Linked DNA regions of Homo sapiens: region 2 is linked to region 1. The links come from fine-mapping of genetic effects on gene expression. A gene starts in region 1. The other region holds a variant in brackets. All regions are shown on one strand. Distances are between the middles of the regions. Region 1 holds the start of PLA1A (phospholipase A1 member A). Region 2 overlaps PLA1A (phospholipase A1 member A).

Region 1 (10,278 bases):
ACATTTACTAATAGACAGCCATGCTTCAAAGCAGTGTTTCTCATCATTTTGGCTGGTATATGGACAACCCTCCTCCCCATTGTCAATGCCAGCAGATGGAAGTGACACAGTCCATCTGTTGGCCCACTTCAGGGGCCGGCTGTGTCTTCTTACTATATCTTCCTTCTAAAATACACTTTCTATTGGAGACTGCTCTAGTGAAGGTGACATTCTGAGGTGAGGTGGACTCTCTACTGTCCCTTATTCCACCAGCCCTGAATCCAGGAGACCTAGGAGGGGGGTGCTCTGAAGGTGTGAATTTTTTCCTTGTTGCAGGCACATGGTAATTGCTATGTAATTAGGACTAAGAAAAGGCATGCTCTGTGATCTTTTCCAGAGAGCTGCCATTGAAACCCGGCTCTGCCACCAGATGCCTCCAAGCCTCAGGTTGCTCAGGACTAATGTAAGTTGAGGCTAATAATGCCCACCTTGAGGAGAATGGTGAGAATGAGAGTGGGTAGCATAAATTCAGTGGAATGCATAAGGACCTATTGCTGGTGGTAGTTTTTCAAATTCAAATCCATGCTCTGCCACTTTGTGTAGCCTTGGGCAAGTTATTAAACCTTGCGCTGCCTGTTTCTGAACGTGGAAAATGGGGTTAATAATAGTATCTACCTTGTGGGATTGTTGTACTTTTTACACAGCATAGTATCTAGCATATAATAAGCAGTTAAACAAAAAATGGAAAAAGATGTGTTAACATATACTATCTATATATTATTGATAGCTTTTAGAAAGTGTATCTAGTGTCTTCTTTTTACCAAGCTGTCATGAAATGAGAGACCCAGGGATATTCCCAGACAACCACCTCCAGCCAGTTTCTTATGTCATTTGGGAAACTTTTGACACAACCCCGGGTGCTCACAGGGTTTTCTTTCTCTTCAACCTTCTCACAATACTCCCTTGCCATAATGCACACCCAAAGATAAACCCTTAAGGTTCACAATTTTACTTTGAAGTTAGGTGATCTCAGGGAATAAACACTAAACCATTGAATTTTAGTATCAAACTGTCATTTTAAAGCTACAAATAATTTTTAGCCTTCTCAACACTTGCAGGCTTGGCATCTCCTGCGGGGTACACAGCATCTCTGTTCTGGCAAAACCACAAGTGACCTTTTTGTCTGGGCTAATATAAAGCTGGTCTCTACTTATTCTTTCTGGAAAAACAGAGACAGAATATAGATGTTTTTAAATGAAAGTTAAAATAATGTGGTTTGGCATATTAGAGGCATGAAATGTTCTTTCTCCATAAGGTTTTAGACCGTACTGTGTGAAAAGCAGGTTCACTGTGATTTGTCTGAGTCTTGGGAGACAGAACACCTATGCATGCAATGAGTTACAGGAATCTGGCTTATTACTTACAGCTAGGCAGCAGACAACAGAAGCCTGAAATTCATGTGAGCCAGTACCCAAGGCTTAGGAAAGCTGCCTGTGGCACACGGATCCTCATCTGCACATGCCCACTTGTACCACAACTGAGGACCCCCAGGAAGGCAGCCCACCCTGGGTTTTATATTCAAAGGAAACAAGAATCACTGAGCTAAAGCATTGAAGGATATCGTGTTTGGGGGTGTGGGGTAGTCGGGGGACTGGAACAGATTCCAGGATGTTGGATTCCCAGCACATTCTACAGTTATTCTTGAGAACTATAAGCCAGAAAGCTGAAAGAACCGGGCCCAGTCCAAGACCTTGAAAACTGTCTTGCACTACACTTATATTTTATGACTTGTTCTGAGAAGGTAAGTGTGTGTGCGTGCACGCACGTGCATGTACCCATGTTCACATGCAGGACATACAGGACAGCAGGAGTGGAGAGACTCCATAATCGTGCTCTTCACCTCAAATTGGAATCTGGCAAGATTGGACTTTCTGAAAATCAGGTAGGATAAGGGCTTCAAGCCATTTTGGGTTGAGCACTAAAATTTCATGACACATTCTATCTGATGGAATTCTATGCAACCTTAAAAGAAGAATGAGGCAGCTCCAAAGTATTTTGTTTAATGTGAAACTCAAGGTTCAAAAGAGTTTGCGTAAGCCTGGGCGTGGTGGCTCACACGTAGAATCTGAGCACTTTGGGAGGCAAAAGTGGGAAGATGACTTCAGCCCAGGAGTTCAAGACCAGCCTGGGCAACATGGCGAAACCCTGTCTCTTAAAAAAAAAAAAAAGAAAAGAAAGAAAGAGAGAAAGAAAGAAAGAAAAATTAGATGGCCATGGTGGTGTGTGCCTGTACCAGCCACTTGGGAGGCCAAGGTGGGAGAATCACTTGAGCCCAGGAGGCCAAGACTGCAGTGAGCCATGATTGCACTGCTGCACTTCAGCCTGGGTGACAGAGCAAGACACTGTCAAAAAAAAAAAAAAAAAAAAAAGTAGTAGGTCAAAAGAAGGGTGTAAAAATCTAAAAAGCATGAGATAGAATATCTTTAGGAGGATAAGCAAGAAAACCATGACAATGCCTGATTTCTATAGGATTGGGAAACTTGGGGGAAAGGGATGGAGATTTATTTTTAACCATGTTTTTGTATTTTTTAAAAAAGCATATATGTGTAGACCTATTACAAAATACATGTTAGGCCAGATATGGTGGCTCACACCTCTAATCTCAATGCTTTGAGGTTGAGATGGGAAGATTGCTTGAGACCAGAAGTTTGAGATCAGCGTGGGCAATACAGCGAGACCTCTATCTCTACAAAATAATTTTAAAAAATTAGCCAGGCATGGTGGCAGGTGCCTGTACTCCAAGCTATTTGAGAGACTGAGGTGGGAGGATCACTTGAGGCCAGGAGGTCGAGGCTGCAGTGAGCCAAGATTACACCACTACACTCCAGCCTGGTTGATAGAGCAAGACCCTGTCTCAAAAATAAATAAATAAATAAATAAATAAATAAATAAATAAATAAATAAATAAAATTAGCTGGGTGTGGTAGTGTGCACCTATAGTCTCAGCTACTCAGGAGGTTGAGGCAGGAGGATTGCTTGAGCTCAAGAAGTGAGGCTGTGGTGAGCCATTATTACACCACTGCATTTCAGAATTTTGAACATTGATGCCCTGGTCCCTTGCTCATTGTGTACCCAGATCCTAGGCAAATAAAACCATCTGTCTCCACCTTACAATGGGTGAGTAGGACCCCCTTTCTAAAAGAGGGGTGGGAACTAACCAGCACACCCTACCAGTTGAACAATGCCTTCCCCTGGCAAATACTTATTGACCACTGGCTGTGTAGCAAGTACTGTGTTACATACTGGGATATCTCAGTGAGCAAAACAGGCCAGGACTCTGCCCTTCTGAGGCTGACATTCTCCTTGGGGGAGATGGACAGCATACACTGAATATGAATTGTGGCTCTCTCAGTGTCTCCAGGTAGGAGGGTCTCATCCTCACCTTCTAAAATATGTAATCTCACTTTTCAGAAGGACGAGGTTTAGTCCAATAAAACTCTTGCATATCTTGTTTCGCCTTGGCCCTCTCAAGCAGTGTCCCTAGCCCCTGGCCTATCTGAGCTTCAGTTTCTCCACTGGTGAAATGGACATGGCTATTGTAAGTATTAACAGAAGACTAGTGGTTCTAGCATGCGTACGATCACCCGAGGAGCCTGCTGGAACTGCAGAGTCCTGGGCCCAGTTCCAAAGATTCTCATTCTGTGTGTCTGGGGTGGATCCAGCAATCTGTCCCAAGTCAATTGGATGGTTGTGAGGCAGGGGGTTCTGGAAGGGACCACTCTGACCCCGCTTGGAGAGCTCTGTGCTAGATGTTGGATGTGAAAGAAAGTGAAAGTGCTCTCTCAATGTCAGCTGTATTCATGCCATGCACAAGGGCACCCTGGATTAACTATCTCTGGCCACGGTGTGGGTGGCTAGGAAAACAGCCCTCAGTTCTCCTGCTGTAGGGAAAATGATTGACTGATGGCTCCAGCTGCTGTCTTCTGAATCTACCTCTGTCTTTGTGCTGAGGCTGACCTCAGCTAATGACTAAGCAAGATGTGGCTGCTAATGCAGGCTCATTTCTACAAAACACATCTGCTGTCACAAAAGACTTTGGCCTGAGGAGTCCCCATTGGCCTGGTCAGAATATTCTAGAAACTGTGCTGCAGCCTGAGACTCTTCCTATGTAATCCTCTCTTTCCTGCCCATTCTCTTTCACAGGTATCAGATGTTCACCACCATCTAAAGGCGCTTCCTGGCTTCTCTAGTACCTCTTATTCTTTACAGGTGTTAGCTCGATAAATCTCTTGCATATCTTGTCTTACCTTGGCATCTTCTTCTCCGAGGACCTGAACTCATACACTTGGCTTGGTCTCTAATATCAAGACAGCTTTCAGTAGTGACCTCTGCTGTGCACTACTTATTGCCACACCCCTTCCTGGTTGCAGCAGCACTTGAGCAGTGAGATCATGTGCACAAGGGGATGTAAGGGCTAGCCCCTCCAAAATAATTGTATCCTGCGTTCAGCCATGATGACATGGTCCCAGAGCCTCTTCAGGAGTTGTTGCTGTAGAGTATCGTTGCTCAGAGCATGGATTCTGGGGCTGGCTCATCCCGCTTTAAATCCCAGCTCTGCATGACCTCAGGCAAATGACTTAAATTCTCTGTGCCCTACCAGCTGTGTAAAACACAAATGTTTGTATTTAATACAAATTACTTCTATCACAGAGAAGTAATTTGTACTTATCTGTGCTTACTAACTGTGTAATTGTCACAGTTAAGTAATTTGTATACAATTATAATACAAATAAGTAATTTGTTGTACAAATTACTTAACTTCTCTGTGATAATACTCACCTCAGAGAGTTATTGTTTGGAAAAGATGATCCTGGCCCTGCCAGTGGGCTGTCTACCTCACAGCAATGTGTTATGATTTAGGGAGTGGGGGGCAAGTGCCCTGCCCTCTGCCTCTGCCCCATTGACTTGCCTAGAAATAGCTCTTTGTGGTTTCTGCCACTCTTTGGGGTGGAGAGGCCATATGGTGCTGGAACCATCTTGGTTCCAGGCCCGGCTCTGCCACTTCCACCAACGGGATCTCTACAGGTCATTTTCTTTTTCTAATATGCAGTTTCTTTGTGAATTCAGGAAGTTGAACATCTCCAAAGTTGGACTTGACTCCTAGCCCCAAGATTCTACAAAATGATAGTACTCTCCAGAGGAAACTTTTTCTTCCCTTCTTCCCTTTAAATGGACACTTAATATATAGTATTATCTCAGTCTTGTGCTAGGCACTGGGTATTCAAAAATGAAAAGAGAAAGCCTTTGCTCTCAAGTCACTCAGAATCTTCTAGGGAGACACACATGTCCACAGATAATTCCAACACAATGAGGGGTTTCTGGCCACCCAGAGATGCAGGACTTCTGCCTTGGTTATTACTAACATCCTATCACGGGAAGTGGGAGAGGTGCAGGAAATAGTTTCCTGATCATGTTTGGCTCAAAGAGGGACAGTGTGTTTCAATGCACTCTGGTTAACAAAAAAGAAAGTGTATTTATTTTCATTGAGAAGAAGAAACCGAAAACTCTGGCATTTAAATAAATAAAGAAGAATTTATTTTTCCTTTTCAGGTCATGAGGCTAGTTAATGATTAGTGAAATCCACGTGGGTGTTTTCTGAGAGGCTGGGTTATATGATCTCTTTGGCTTTAGGGAATTACTCCATACCAGCTCTGAGATTTCCAGCTCAGCGATGCCCCCAGGTCCCTGGGAGAGCTGCTTCTGGGTGGGGGGCCTCATTTTGTGGCTCAGCGTTGGAAGTTCAGGTAAGCCAGGGCTCAGGCCTTGGGAGGAACTTATTTCAGTCAGTGATCATATTTCTCCAACTACTTATGCAGTACTAACTTTTGGAAGATCCCCTAAAAGCCTTTTGCCTCTTCTGAGGTGAATTTAAAACAGTAGGGGAAAAAAACCCCTTTTATCATAATCGGAATGATGGTAAACAGGTCACAAAACCTGAACTTTCCCTGGTTATCCGACTCATTTTTCTAAAGCCCACATAAAAAAACCCTTTCTCACCTTGCACAAGCCAGGACCAACTGTAAGAAAATAAAATTTGGTTAATTCTAAGATATTCATTTTTCACCCCATAAATATCCACCATTCCAAGATATATTTAATTTTAAAATTTAGGTTTTCCAAACTAATAATGATTTTGTCACTGAGATTGTTAGATGTCCTTTCTAATCCAGCAACCTAACTCAAGTGGTTTGTCATCCTGGCTGGGTGATGGGAACTAGTCCCTGCTAACCTCAGATGCCCCTGGGAAAACTTCCCTCAGATGCCAATTTGCATTTACCTTTCCCCCAGTAAAGAACTGACCCACTGATCCCTCTTGCCTAACAGAAAATTAACCTGCTCTACTTTGGGTTCTCAGAAGTTCTCAGAAGACTCCTTCTCACTATGGTGAGGTCACCCTTAGAAAAATCCCCTCCCTCTACTCACAATAGCAGGCTGCTTTTCTGTCTTCTCCGCTGGACATTTAATTCTCATTCCCTGGCTCTAGAATATGTCATTGCTTCTGCCTGGGGTTGCTCACATCACCTTTGGATTGATTTCTGTTCTTTGCATCTTTCAAGGGGGCTTCTGTATTCCTATCTCCCTTGTACTCATTCTTTTTCTGCTCAGCACCCCTCCCTGCTACAAAGTTCCACTGGGTGACTGCATGCTCTCCTTGCACTCATGGGTGGTTTTTCAGAGGTGCTGTTGAGCTCTGTATGTGCTTTCTCCTACCTCAATTAGTTGTCCCTAAAAGGTGAGGATTTGAGGCTTCTGTCTCTTTTAGCATAGTTAGTGCTGTGCTCTGTATAGAGCAGATGTCCAGTGAATATTGCAGACATTGATGCTTAGAGGAGGCAATGGGCTGAGCTGATGGGGAATAGGCTCTGTCTGGGTCGGGCTAACCCAGACTGGAATCCTGGCTCTGTTTCTTTGTAGCTATGTGACCTTGAGGAAGTGGCTTTCTTTACCTGTAGCTAGAGATGATCCTTACCAGATAGGAATGCTGTAAGGACTGAATGGGATCATCTGTGCACAGGGCCTGACTTTTGCAGTTGCTTATTCCTTTGTGATTTTATTATTAGCAAATTGTTGTCTAGGCTGATGGAAGTGGAGGGAACAGGGCTGTCATGAGCCACCTTGGAGAGAAGGTGGGAGGTATCACCTAGGAGAGCTGTGGGTCCCGTTCTGAGAAGTGGGCTTGGCAGGCCCACTTTGTCCCTGCTCAGGAGCCCCAGGCCTCCTTAGGGGCTGGAAGGCATTTGCTAGTTGTCCTGATTTGAAGGTTGAGGAGTGGGAGGACTATAGCAAATTGGCATCAAACTCTTTTTGGAAGCTCATCTGTCGGTAAGCCTGGGGCCTCTGTCACACAGATAAGAGAAGCTCAGAAATTCTGAACCAGATAGCAGGGTTAGGGTCAGCGCAGAAGCTGATCAGGTTCCAGCCACATATGTGGGAATCATTCTAGATGCTCTGGGCAGGAAGTGGGCTTATAATAACATGTTAGCAGGGCCTGGGTATTTCCTTGCCTGGTCTTCTTGCCTTTGTTTGTCTCTGGTGTCTTTCTTTTCACACTTACCCAGTGAGGCATTCTCTATTTCCCATCCGCTTCTCTTCCTTTCCCACCTTAACTGAGTGTTTCACTGTCAACAGCAACAATATTTATTAAGTTAATGTTCCTTATTCTTACTTTTAGTAGTGCTGTCTCAGAAATTAAGTGAGTTGATGGATAGGCAGAGATAGAAGTGTGTGTGCGTGTGTGTGTGTGTGTGGCTGGGAGGGATAGAAATATGCCAAAGGGAAAAGGAAAAAGGATGTAATTGACTTCAGACAGCCTAGATGAAGTAGGTGGACAGAAAGAAGATGCCGGATGCAGAGAGCTCAAGGTAAAGGAAAGGAAGAGCTCAAATGATCGGGAGGGAGGAGGTTCAGGAGGTATCCAGGTGCCTGCTGTCACACAAGGGCAGTAGCTGACCCACATGGGCCTCTTGGAAGTTCAGCCTCCACTCACTTTCCTGGCTGTGTACCCACACAATCTTTCATGACAACCCCAGTCACACCTAGTTTTTCCTTGGACTGTGGAGCTTTAGATTGTTGAGCTCCTTGATCAACCTGGCCCTTGAGCTTCCAGGCTGGCTCAGGCGTCCTCTCCTCCAGGTGGATGCACAAGTCTTCCTCCATCTGGGGTAGGTGGTCTTTCTTTGTGTTCTCTCAGTACCTATGTTTCCTGGTCACAGATCTTACATCCCTATTTGCTGTGGGGCCTGCTTATTTTCCCTTTCTCCGCTAGACTTTGAGCTCCCAAAGGGCAGTTATGGCTGGCGTCTTCTTCATCCTTGAATCCCCAGAGCCTCACCCAGGCCCAGGCACACAGGACACATTCAATAAGCCAAAAGCCTTGGTAACTGAGAAGAAAGAAATTGAGCGGGCTGCAGTCCTCATCTCTACTTCCTGACGTTAGGCAGATTGATTAAATGACACTCATCCTGAAACAATTCAGCCAAAGAAGGGTTCCAGAGGGTGGCCCATTTCAGAGACACTCCTGGCTGCTGATGCCTCAATCCACAGGTCATCTGATAGCACAGCTCTGTCTGTGGGGAGCCCAGGGCTCAAGGGGGTGGCAGGAAGTTCAGTGGCCCATAGTGCTGAGCTGGTGGCAGAAGCAGCCTGTGACACCAGCCTCTGTAAGGCCAGCCTGGGCCTGAAGGTGGTGCTGCACCCTGCATGCGTGGCAGAGCCACCCTCAAGTCAGCTATTGGGAGGGGGCCTCCGCCCTCCTCCCCTCCTGCAGTGTCTTCCCGAGGAGCCTGGAGGAGGGTGCCTGCTTCCCGACACATGCACCGATGGCTCCTCTGTCATCTCCACATTTGATAACAAAGTGTCTGATGTGGTTTTGTGCCAACTCTGTCACTGCCAGAACACCCTTCCCTTCTTGGTCCAGGCCACAGAATCAAAACTGTTTTAGCAAAATAACACTTCTACGAAACAAAAGCCCATGGGGGATACCGATCTACAGAACACACCTGAGACAGGTGCAGGTGGGAGTGCAGAGTAGCACATTTCCAGCATTTGCAGATCACAGAGGCCACCCATGGGAACCATGAGCAGCCCAGGCGGGTGAAGGGAGCTCTGTCATATATGCCTGAGAGTCACTTTCCATTATGGAAACATGGGTGTTACCAGGCCTTACTCACCCTTCTCTAACACTTCTTCAGTGTCAAAGACTCAAGAATAGAAAACTATAGGCTATTTTCAGACTCAGACAAGCCAGTATTTCATTCTGCACCCCTCATTTCTATTGTTTATAAATCTCTGGTCAGCCTGGCCAGATACTCATGTGTCACTGTTCTTTGGTTGGAGTGGTGGCTAGGTAGAGGCAGTATCTGAATATGCTTCCCTATTTATCAGCTTCAAATACTGGCAATTTTCTTCTCTCCCTTTTCAAACTTTATAACTTTTATCCCATTGCATTGTCTTGTTTCAGTGGTTAGGACTAGGTCCTCTAGCACAATATTTAATAGAAGCAGTGATAGCAGACATTTCTTATCTGTTCCCTGTTCTAAATGGAATACTTCTAATATTTCCCAGTAAATCTAATCCTTACTGTAGGCTTTTAGGAGATATCCTTTCTTATGTTAAAGAGGGTTGAATTTTGTCAAGTGTTCTTTTTTTCTGCTCATCCGTTGAGATGAGCATATGGTTTTTCTTCTTTAGTTTGTTCATACGTGAATTATATTAATACTTTTTTTAATGTTAAAACAGCCTTTAATTCTTTGCAAAGAATTGGCCCAGCAAACCTTGCTGGGCCATGATGTACTTTGTGGTCTTGTTATCCTGGATGGATTTAGATTTGCTGATATTTTATCTTAGATTTCTGTTTATGTTTATAAATGAAAGTAGCCTTTAGTTTTTCCTTCTCCCCTGTCCTTTGCACTTTTGGTACTTCGGATATTCTCATAGAATGAACTGGAATCCTGTCTCCCATTTTCTATTCCTGGAACAGCATGTGTAAGCTAGGGATCAATAGAATTCCTCTGTGAAACTCTCAGGCCTCTTAGACTTTTCTGAGGGATAGTTTTGAAACTAGTGTTTCAATTCCTTTATGCTATAGTTTTACATTTGATTTTCTGTTTTTCCTTTCTTGACTAAGTTTTGGTAAGTTACGTTTTTCTAGGAAATGATCCATTTTCTAGCAAAATATCAGTATTTTCAGTTTTGGGGTGGATATAAACTTTTTTATGGTGTAAGGAAATCTACTGTCTG
Region 2 (10,278 bases), 22 kb after region 1:
TGACTTATTAGGTACCCATTTACCTAAGCAAGGCCTCTCAGGCCCCTTCAAAGTTGGAGCCTCTCCCTGATGTGACTTAAAAAAAAAAACATTCTATTTATTCAATCAATATTTATTAAGCTACGTGGCAGGTACTGAGAATATGGCAGCAATCAACACATTGAATGAGGTCCCTGCCTACATGGAGCTTACAGGCTACGTGGACTGTAGGAGTCATGAAGGGAAGCCCGGATGCCCATTAGAGAGTGTCTGCAGTAGGGGTCCGGGTGAGAGATGATGGTGGCTTGGGCAAAGGTGGTGGCAGTAAAGACAGAGAGAAGTAGACAGATTCAAAATATGTTTTGGAGGTAGAGCTGACTAGACTCATGATGGGCTGCATGTGGGGTATGAGGGAAAGGCAAGACTCAAGGATGGCTTATAGGTCATTGCTTAACCTCCAGGTCGATGGCAGTAAGCAAATAATACACAATCAATTTCTTCCAATACTGACAGATGACAGAAGGAGAAAGTCGGGGTCTTCAGCAGCTGGGCCTGAGCCAGTCTGAGGGCTCAAGTCTGCCACAGCAGAGGGTCCAGGAATTGGTCACAGGGACAGAAAGAGGGCAGAGGATGCTCTCTTATCTCCGCTCTGGAGCCATGTTCTATTTCCACTCAGTCAGGAGAGCACAAAAGATATGTTTTTGGGGAGACTGTGGAAATGTGACCCCATACACATTTATCTGAACTATTACTCAAAGGAAAACCAAAACTACTCAATGAGGAAACTTACCAAGTTTATAACATTTACTGAGTTACAAAAACTTGTGTTACAGGATATTGTTCTTGATTTTCTTAGGCAAATATGAGCATCTTACCAACAGAATCTCTTTGGTTCCTTTTAGCATGAAAAATCCCTTTAGAAAACTGGGAGGCTGAGGCGGGTGGATCACCTGAGGTCAAGAGTTCAAGACCAGCCTGGCTAACATGGTGAAACCCTGTCTCTACTAAAAAAACACAAAAACTAGCCGGGTGTGGTGGCATCCGCCTGTAATCCCAGCTACTCCTGCTGAGGCAGGAGAATCGCTTGAATCCGGGAGGCGGAGGTTGCAGTGAGAGAAGATGGCGCCACTGCACTCCAGCCTGGGTGACAAGAGCGAGAGAGCGAAAAAAGAAAGCCTCAGAAAAAAAAAAGAAAAAGAAAAGAAAAGAAAAGAAAAGAAATCTGTCTGAGGGCTCATCCTGTGAAGTCTCACAGCACTTAGAAGTGACGTGGCAGAGAGTGGGTGGGCTCCCAAGGTCAGAGTTTGAGGTCCGCTGTGAGCCGACCCCCTGAAGTAAGGAAGTTAATGGAGTTGTGCCTCCTTTCAGATTTGGGTATTCGGATTCCCGTTGGACATGTGGACTACTTCGTCAACGGAGGCCAAGACCAACCTGGCTGCCCCACCTTCTTTTACGCAGGTCAGAAAGCCAGTACAATCTGGTATTTGGCAACCCCGGAGATTGAAATTCACCAACAGCTTTTGTGTTGAGTCAGCCAGAGTGGGCCATAGAGGGTCTACTTGACAGTGTCCTTTGCTATGTCCCATAACGCTTTACTCAGAATGTATTCAAGGATGGATGTCTTCAGAGCCCAGGCATTTGAGGGGAGGGTGTGGCACAGTCCACACCAACTGCATCCTCTACAGAGCCTTGCTGTGGCAGAGGCAAGCCATTGTGCCCAAAGCTGGTGAGCAGAAGGATCAATTCACTGCCCAGCCATTTCACCATATTTACCAACTCAAACAGTCCTCTAAAATTGTTTTCAAGATGATCTTTTTGAACACATTCAATGACTGTACATTTCCTCTCTTTAAATACAGCCTTCTGGAATTTTTAAAAATATATTTATTGATATATTCTTAGCAGACTAAATTTGTCAAAATCTAAGGTCAATAATTATTTGGTTTTCTTATATCTTATGAATATAGCCAATATATCAGAATTTCATATAAAAATTTAAAATGCTGATTTCTGTTTACTATGTTTTTAGTCTTTTCTTGCTTTACCAAATTTCTAACATTTTAAGGATTCCTTTGACAATCTTATTGAATAACTACTGATCTATTTTACCAAATTTACTAGTTTTCCAAAAACATGCTTCTTTTCGCAATTTGCGAATTTCTCAGCAATTCTGATAAAATAGGATAGTTTGGTTTCAATGGCTTTTGAAGATTTGGTGGCATTTCAATTGACCACTTTTCATTTTTTCTTCATAACACAACTTGAGAAGGGTTTAGTTTGTCTCTGCCCCAGCTCCCTGTTGCAACTGGAGAGAGCTTGGCCATACAGAGTGTCCCAACCACAGGGGAAAGGAAAGTCAAAATATTGCTTGGCCTTGGTTGCAGGTCTCAGCAACGAGGTCTCAAGGTGCAGGGAGAGTTTAAAGACCCCAGGACCCTGGAGTTGTATACAGCTCACCACATACTTCTTAGTTCCAGCCAATTTATCCAATGTTGAATGCTGCAAACTTAAATAGTAAATAACAGTGAAATAAGTTTTGGTAAACTGGGATATTTGACAAATTCGGCATATCAGTCATTTGGCCCGGTGAGCCTCAGCACATTGGGTGTAGAGAGTGACCACAAACGGCGGCTGATGCAGCAGTCTCACTGCTGGGTAGGGTATAATGAGGTTGTAAAAAATTGGTTGTATGGCTGATGATAATGGAGGTAAAAATATGCACAAATACCCATTTTGAGAAATGGGGCAGCATCATCAACTCTCTATATATTCCCATTTTATGAAGGAGAGTTTGCATGATCATATAATCCATCTCAAGGCCAGGTACGGTGGCTCACACCTGTAATCTCAGCACTCTCGGAGGTTGAGGCAGGTGGATCACCTGAGGTCAGGAGTTTGAGACCAGCCTGGCCAATATGGCAAAACCCTGTTTCTATGAAAAATACAAAAATTTGTGAGGCATGGTGGTGTGCGCCTGTAATCCCAGCTACTCAGGAGACTGAGGCAGGAAAATTGCTTAAACCCAGGAGGCAGAGGTTGCAGTGGCCCAAGATCATGCCATTACACTCCAGCCTGGGTGACAGAGTGAGATTCCGTCTCAAAAAAAAAAGAAAAGAAAAGAAAAGAAAAAAAAGAATGCATCTCAAATCAAGCAATTTTCTTGATGGATTATGCTTATGTATCTCAGGAAAAGTAAAATGAAAAAAGTAGAATGTAGTAACCATGTACACTAATATTCTGAAAAAGTGATTTGAGGGGACTCCCATGCATGTATTTACAGCTTGCTGGAATATAAAATTCAATAGAGTTTCACTAAACAGCATAGATTTCCATTTGTCTTGACTGAAACCTTGGTTGTGTTTTTTCTCTGTTCAGGTTATAGTTATCTGATCTGTGATCACATGAGGGCTGTGCACCTCTACATCAGCGCCCTGGAGAATTCCTGTCCACTGATGGCCTTTCCCTGTGCCAGCTACAAGGCCTTCCTTGCTGGACGCTGTCTGGATTGCTTTAACCCTTTTCTGCTTTCCTGCCCAAGGATAGGTAAAGTGCTACCCCTTTGACTTCCTTTGACAATGTGGGGAAGTTCAAGCCCTGCTAGTTGTCCCCTCTTAATGTCCTGATGTCCTATGGTCAAGAATTCTATCCAATTTGGGAAAAGAAAATTAAGCAATGAGGTGCTCAGCCTGTTCTTACTTGGAGGTGGACGGTTGGTTCTCGTGCCCCACCCCTCACTCTCTATAGTGTTCCCTATGGCCATCCTTGCCCCACACACACCCTTCCCACATACAGGTTCCTCCACTCTCAGACCAGATGCTGCCTATAGGTCTTTCTCACTTCTGGCCATTCTCCAGTTCTTCATAGACCCTAAATCTATGACCCTTCATAGACCCTAAATCTATGGTGGGGAATCCCTAAGAGTGGAACACAAGACCTACATTACAGGTCGGATATTCTGGTGGCCTCGTGAGAGCTGGGGGGATGCCTAGTTGCTGGAGGACTTGGGCACCTTCCTGGATGATCCAGGCCAGTCTGGGGAAAGGATGCCAGGAAGGCTGCAGGATCTGGCCTCTAACTCACTTGTGTAGATCATTGCTATGCATATCCCGTGGTTATCCAGGATGAAGAGCTCCAGGAAAAACTCCTGGGCAGTGGAAATGGTTTCTCTCCCTCCCGCACTCTCTCACTTCCCGCTACCCCTGGCTGCCACTCAACTGCAGCAGCCTGTCACTGCTTATATGAGTGAAATGGGTACCAGCTTGACAAAATAGTAAAGTAGGGTAGCTTCCAATGATAGAACCAGTCATCATTATTTCCTATTCATTGTGCATATGTCAGTTTCCCCTAGATGCCATGGACCCACAGACATAACAGCCACCTCACACTGTCTGCCCAGCCTCATCTCTCACTACACTTTCTCTTGCACTGAACACCTGGTGGTGCTAACTACTTGTACTTCCAAGTGTACATCGGGCTTCCTCACCTGTGTGCCTTGGTCCTAACCATACTCTCTTCCCAGAATGCCCTCTCTCCACCTGTCATCCACTAGTCTTCAGGTCAAACACTTCCTGCTTCACCATGCTCCCACTGCACGGGATATAAATGTCATGAAAACAACTACTATAGGAGATTGGTTTTGCAAGTTAGAGACAGATTAGTGTCAGATTTCTTATAATAACCTGCCAAGAATGAGTCAGATGATCTGAAAAGCATATTTCCGTTTATGTGTGTGTTTACTGCCCACTGGACCGAGTTGCTGGGATCCCAGGACTCA[C/T]CTTAGAATACAGCACATAGTGCGTGTATGGTGTAGATGTCCGTGGAATAAATGGGTGCATGAATTAATAAACACGTGGCTGGGTGCTGTGGGACCCTAAGATAGCCTTCTCAGGACTCTGCTGTCTTTGCTTCTTTATTTCCAGGACTGGTGGAACAAGGTGGTGTCAAGATAGAGCCGCTCCCCAAGGAAGTGAAAGTCTACCTCCTGACTACTTCCAGTGCTCCGTACTGCAGTGAGTAGGGGGAAATGCATGAGCTCAGCTCTGCCAGGGCACCACCAGAGGAGTCCAGCCCAGTGTGGTAGCCTGGGTGGGAGTGAATGATAAGAGCAAAGGCATCACCGGAGGTGTGGCAACAGCCCCTGGTCTGAACCAAAACTTTCAGAGTGAGTCCAACCGATTGCTCTTCAGATGAGGACTTGGGGGCTTCTTACTGTCTATCTACTGATCGTATTTCCTCTTACCCTCAAAATTTACCCTCTAGTGGGTCTTCTCTCTCGAGTGATGTTTAGGAGTGTCCTCCGGCTGCCTCCTTTCTGCACTCTCATTTCCCACTTCTTGGCGCCCACCCTATGTGGTTCTCACCCTGGCAGCCTCCAAGGTTGGGGTCCCTGGGGAATACTGAACCTTTCCCTCTGGTCTCCTTCCCCTTCACAGATGCATTCCAGCTTCTCACTGTTGCTCCTAACCATGGCATTTCCTTGAAGCTAGGATGCTGGTGATTGTAACGATGTTAAATGTGAAGTAAAAATGTGTCCAGAATCCATGAAATACATTACAAGCTAAACCGTCATCCTTCCCTATGCTATGTGCATCTTAACTAGGGTGACTATACTTCCTGGTTTATGCTGGTTATCCTGGGGTCCTGTTTGCTTTATCATGTGTACAGGATAAAGTATGCCGGCTTGGATGATAAACAACATGCCACCCAATTTTAACTGATTTTCTGATCAGCTTGTGTCAAGTCAGTGCAGGGATCTTTGTGAAAATATCTTCCTGGTACCAGAAGGCCTGGTGCCATATGACATGGAGCCTAGAGCTCAGACTCTGTGTTCACCTGGACCTGGATTCAAATCTCAGCTTCTCCACTTACCAGCTGTGTGATCAGGAACAAGTTATTTAAACTCTCTGAACTCTATATCCTTATGTGAAAATGGGAACCATAACAGTACCTACTTTAAAGAACCAATTGTGAGTATAAAATAAAATGGTGCACAGGAGATCACTAGCACAGGGACTGGAACCCAATCAGTAATAATTTCCTTCCCTTAGTCAATCAGAGAATTTGGGAGAAGAATAGTTAGGGTGTTTGTATCTTCATGCCAGAGAAAATTTTTGGCTACCTCTTAGGAGCAAAGTGGACTACAGAGTCAACTGTGGGCTTTTCATGTCCTTATCAGCTCTTTCAACAACCCAACTGGGAGACTTAAGGAAAGGGAAGCTCTGAGAGACCAAGTGGCATGCCCAAGTCTCCACAGCTGGATGAAAAGGTCAGAACTCAACTCCAGGTCTCCTGACTGTAAACTCTATACTCCTTCCTCACCACCACCATGCTTCCATCTTCTGAGAACCTGCTGTCCGCAGGCCGTACGTCTCAGCTCCCCTTCTGTCAGCGCCACCCCATCTGAGTTGGCATGCGGGAGGATGTTTTGTCTGGTGGTGGAGGTGGTGTTGCCAGGACCAGATGTCCTGACTTCTAATTCCAGCTGCTGGGCAGATTCACAGCAACCTGAGCTGGTGCCTCTGTGTCTGTGCAGCTAAGAATATACCCAGCAGGAAAGTGTGGGGAATGCCTGGAGACTAACAGCATGTTAAGGTCCCTGCTGAGGGGGTTCACAGGGCCATGTTTTTTCTGACTCTTTTGTATTTATTGTGAGACCACCTCCCCACACCTTCAGAAGCGTAGCCCTGTTGGTTCCAAAACCACAGAGGGGCACATAAACAGGCATGCTCTGCCTTGAGCTGTCACTTCTAGGGATGGAAGCGGAGTCCTCCCTGCTCTCCCTGGACAGATATGGGTAGGGAGGGGGTAGGGACCAGCAGCTCTCCAGCCACTCTCAGGCCATCATGGCACTGGGCTCCCATGCCTAGCACTCTTGGTCTGCTTTGACTTCAGCAATGTTGACCTGTGCCAGGCATGCGCCAGCATGGGCAGAGGATCTTCTACCAAATAATAATTTTTAAACAATATATTCCCTCATAGAACAGTTTTTCACATAGTGTACCTTTTCTCCATTACTTCACTCCATCCTTACCATGTCCTGTGTGATAAGTTGAGGGCTATGGCTTGCAGATGAGGGAACTGAGGCATGGAGAGGCTCAGTGTCTTAGGCAAGGCAGCATGGCTTGTAAGCAGCAGGGTTGGGCCTTGGATCCAGGCCTCCTGACCAACCACTCAGGACTCTGTGTTGTACGACATGAGACATGTTCCTGTGCAGATTTGATTCCACTAATTCCCACCCACCCAACATTAGGCCTAGCTCCCTTGGGGCCTCCAGGGTAAGTGAAGAAAGAAGTAGGCCAGGTGCAGTGGCTCACGTCTCTAATCCCAGCACTTCGGGAGGCTGAGGTGGGAGGGTTGCTTGAGGAGAGGAGTTCGAGACTGCAGTGAGCTGATTGTGCCAGTGCATTCCAGCCTGGGCAAGAGAGCAAGAACCTGTTTCTGAAGAAAGAAGAAGAAGAAGAAGAAGGAGAAGGAGAAGGAGAAGAAGAGGAAGAGGAGGAGGAGGAGGAAGAAGAAGAAGAAGAAGAAGAAGAAGAAGAAGAAGAAGAAGAAGAAGAAGAAGAAGAAGGAGACAGAATCTTAGAAAACTTTCTTAATCAATGATACTTGCTAGCAAAGGAAGAAGTATTAATAATATAATATAGCAAACTCAGCCCTGAGAATTAAATTCCTAAAGCTTCTGTAAGTTAGCTATTTTTTCCACATTGCAAATATCATCCTTTCCAGTTCAGCCCTTGCCCGTCCCCATAACAATTGATATCCCATAGTAACATCTGAGAAGGAGAGACAGACAGGGTGTGGTATAAGATGTCCTCCTCTGTGGAGGGGAAGCATTCAAGGCCCCTTTCTTCTTGTGGGTTCTTGGCATCTTGGCACCTTTTGGTGAGCCCTGTTCCTAACCCCAGGGAGCTCAGATGGGCCATAGCACTCCTTCAACTTAGTGCTGAGTTCACCTGCATCCAGTTTATGTTCCCTTCCCCAATGTTAGCCCATAAAATGTGGCAAATGAGAAAGTACAGGTAGAGTAGAGGCGAAGGATTGCATCTCTAGCTATGTTCCCATCACCAAAGGAGCCTGGGAAAATTCCGAGACTAAAGTGATTGCAAAATGCCACCAGGTTGCACCTACCCCTTAGTAAAAAAAAAAAGGACAGTGTGTTAGGGAAACTGTAATCTTTCTTTTCTTATTTATTTATTTATTTAGAGACAGAGTCTCGCTCTGTCACCTAGGCTGGAGTGCAGTGGCACGATCTTGACTCACTGCAACCTCCGCCTCTTGGGTTCAAGCAATTCTTCTGCCTCAGCCTCCCGAGTAGCTGGGACTACAGGCATCCACCACCACACCCTGCTAATTTTTTTGTATTTTTAGTAGAGACGGTGTTTCACCATGTTGGCCAGGCTGGTCTCGAACTCCTGACCTCAGATGATCTGCCTGCCTTAGCCTCCCAAAGTGCTGGGATTACAGGCATGAGCCACTGCGCCTGGCTTTTCTTAAAATTTTTAATTTTGATTTTTTTTGAGACAGGGTCTCCCACTGTCACCCAGGCTGGAGTGTGGTGGCACAGTCACGGTTCACTGCAGCTACAACCTCCCATGCTCAGGTGATCCTCCCACCTCAGCCTCCCAAATAGCTGGGACTACAGGTACACACCACATGCCCAACTAATTTTTTGTTTTTGTTTTTTTGTAGAGACTGGGTCTTGCCATGTGGCCCAGGCTGGTCTTGAACTCCTGGGCTCAAGTGATCTGCCCACCTTGGCCTCCCAAAGTACTAGGATTTCAGGCATGAGCCACTATGCCTGGCCTGTAATCTTTCTTACCTTCTCTTGCCAGAGGGACAGCAGGTCCCAGGGGTATCACCATGGCCCAGGCTGTACACCCAGTCTATGTTGGCGACACTCACTTTGAGAGCTCCAGTGTCCATGCTGCTCAAGGGAGAGTCTGGATGCCACATAGGTAACCAGCGGCTGCAGGGAGAGGAGCAGTCTCCTACACACACAGCCTGCTTCCCTGACGCTGGGTGTGTGGAGAGGGAGCAGGGCCGTTGCTGTATTTAATGAGTTAATTCTCTCTTTCTTTTTTTTTTTTTTTTTTTTTTTTGAGACAGAGTTTCACTCTTGTCACCCAGGCTGTAATGCAACGGCACCATCTCGGCTCACTGCAACCTCTGCCTCCCGGGTTCAAATGCTTCTCCTGCCTCAGCCTCCTTAGTAGCTGGGGTTACAGGTGCCTGCCACCATGCCTGGCTAATTTTTATATTTTTAGTAGAGACAGGGTTTCACCATATTGGCTAGGCTGGTCTCAAACTCCTGACCTCAGGTGATCCACCCGCCTTGGCCTCCCAAAGTGCTGCGATTACAGGAGTGAGCCACCACGCCTGACCTTATGAGTTAAACCTTTAGTTTATGTCTTAGTCTACTTGTGCTACTATGACACAGTACCTGAGACTGGGTAACTTACAAAGCTCAGAAATTTATTTTCCCACAGCTCTAGAGGCTGGGAAGTCCCAGATCAAGGCGCCGGCACTCCATGTCTATAAGGGTTGCACTTTCTGCTCCCAAGAAGGTGCTTTGCTGTTGCATTCTCCAGAGGGGACAGATACCGTGTTCACACACAGCAGAACGCAGGAGGTCAAATAAGGGCCCTGCCAATTCCCTTGAGCCCTTCTATAAGGCACTATTTCATTCATGATAGTAGAGCCTTCATGACTTAATCCCTTCCCTCAAAGGCCCCACCTCTCAGTACTGTTGCACAGAGCATTCAGTTTAAACATGAACTCGGAGGGGACACAAACAAAAGATAGCCGTATATGATAGATGCATTTTGGCTCATTCAAGATCATCCCACCATGAATATGTCAGCAAACAAGGGGAAGTAAAACATTAGTATTACAAAATAACAAAAACTAACATTACTGAATGCTTCCTAGGCACAGGCACTGTCCTGAGAAGTTCATACATATTAACCCACTTATTTCAGACCTAGGGTATCTATTTTTTTTTTTTTTTAGACGGAGTCTTGCTCTGCCGCCCAGGCTGGAGTGCAGTGGTGCAATTTCTGCTCACTGCAAACTCTGCCTCCTGAGTTCAAGCGATTCTCCTGTCTCAGCCTCCTGAGTAGCTGGGATTACAGGCACCCGCCACCACACCTGGCTAATTTTTATATTTTTAGTAGAGATGGGGTTTCACCATGTTGGTCAGACTGGTCTCAAACTCCTGACCTCAGGTGATCCACTCGCCTCGGCCTCCCAAAGTGCTGGGATTACAGGCGTGAACCACTGCGCCCAGCCAAGTGTCTATTT

What was found.
Region 2: its variant is fine-mapped to the expression of PLA1A in skeletal muscle (GTEx, PIP above 0.99). The same link has a PIP of 0.9 or more in nasal epithelium.

What each region holds. Positions count from the first base shown.
Region 1 is chr3:119,592,204-119,602,481 of GRCh38, forward strand. It overlaps PLA1A (phospholipase A1 member A), which reads left to right and starts at 5,682. Exons shown (of 11, transcript NM_015900.4): 1 at 5,682-5,783. The coding sequence starts at 5,711. RefSeq lists enhancers at 6,361-6,550, 8,379-8,518, 8,699-9,198.
Region 2 is chr3:119,614,665-119,624,942 of GRCh38, forward strand. It overlaps PLA1A (phospholipase A1 member A), which reads left to right. Exons shown (of 11, transcript NM_015900.4): 6 at 1,348-1,437; 7 at 3,355-3,522; 8 at 4,899-4,988. Among named protein-coding and RNA genes, the nearest start is that of PLA1A, 22 kb to the left of the region's middle. RefSeq lists an enhancer at 9,461-9,660. The variant C/T (reference allele first, on the strand shown) is at 4,754.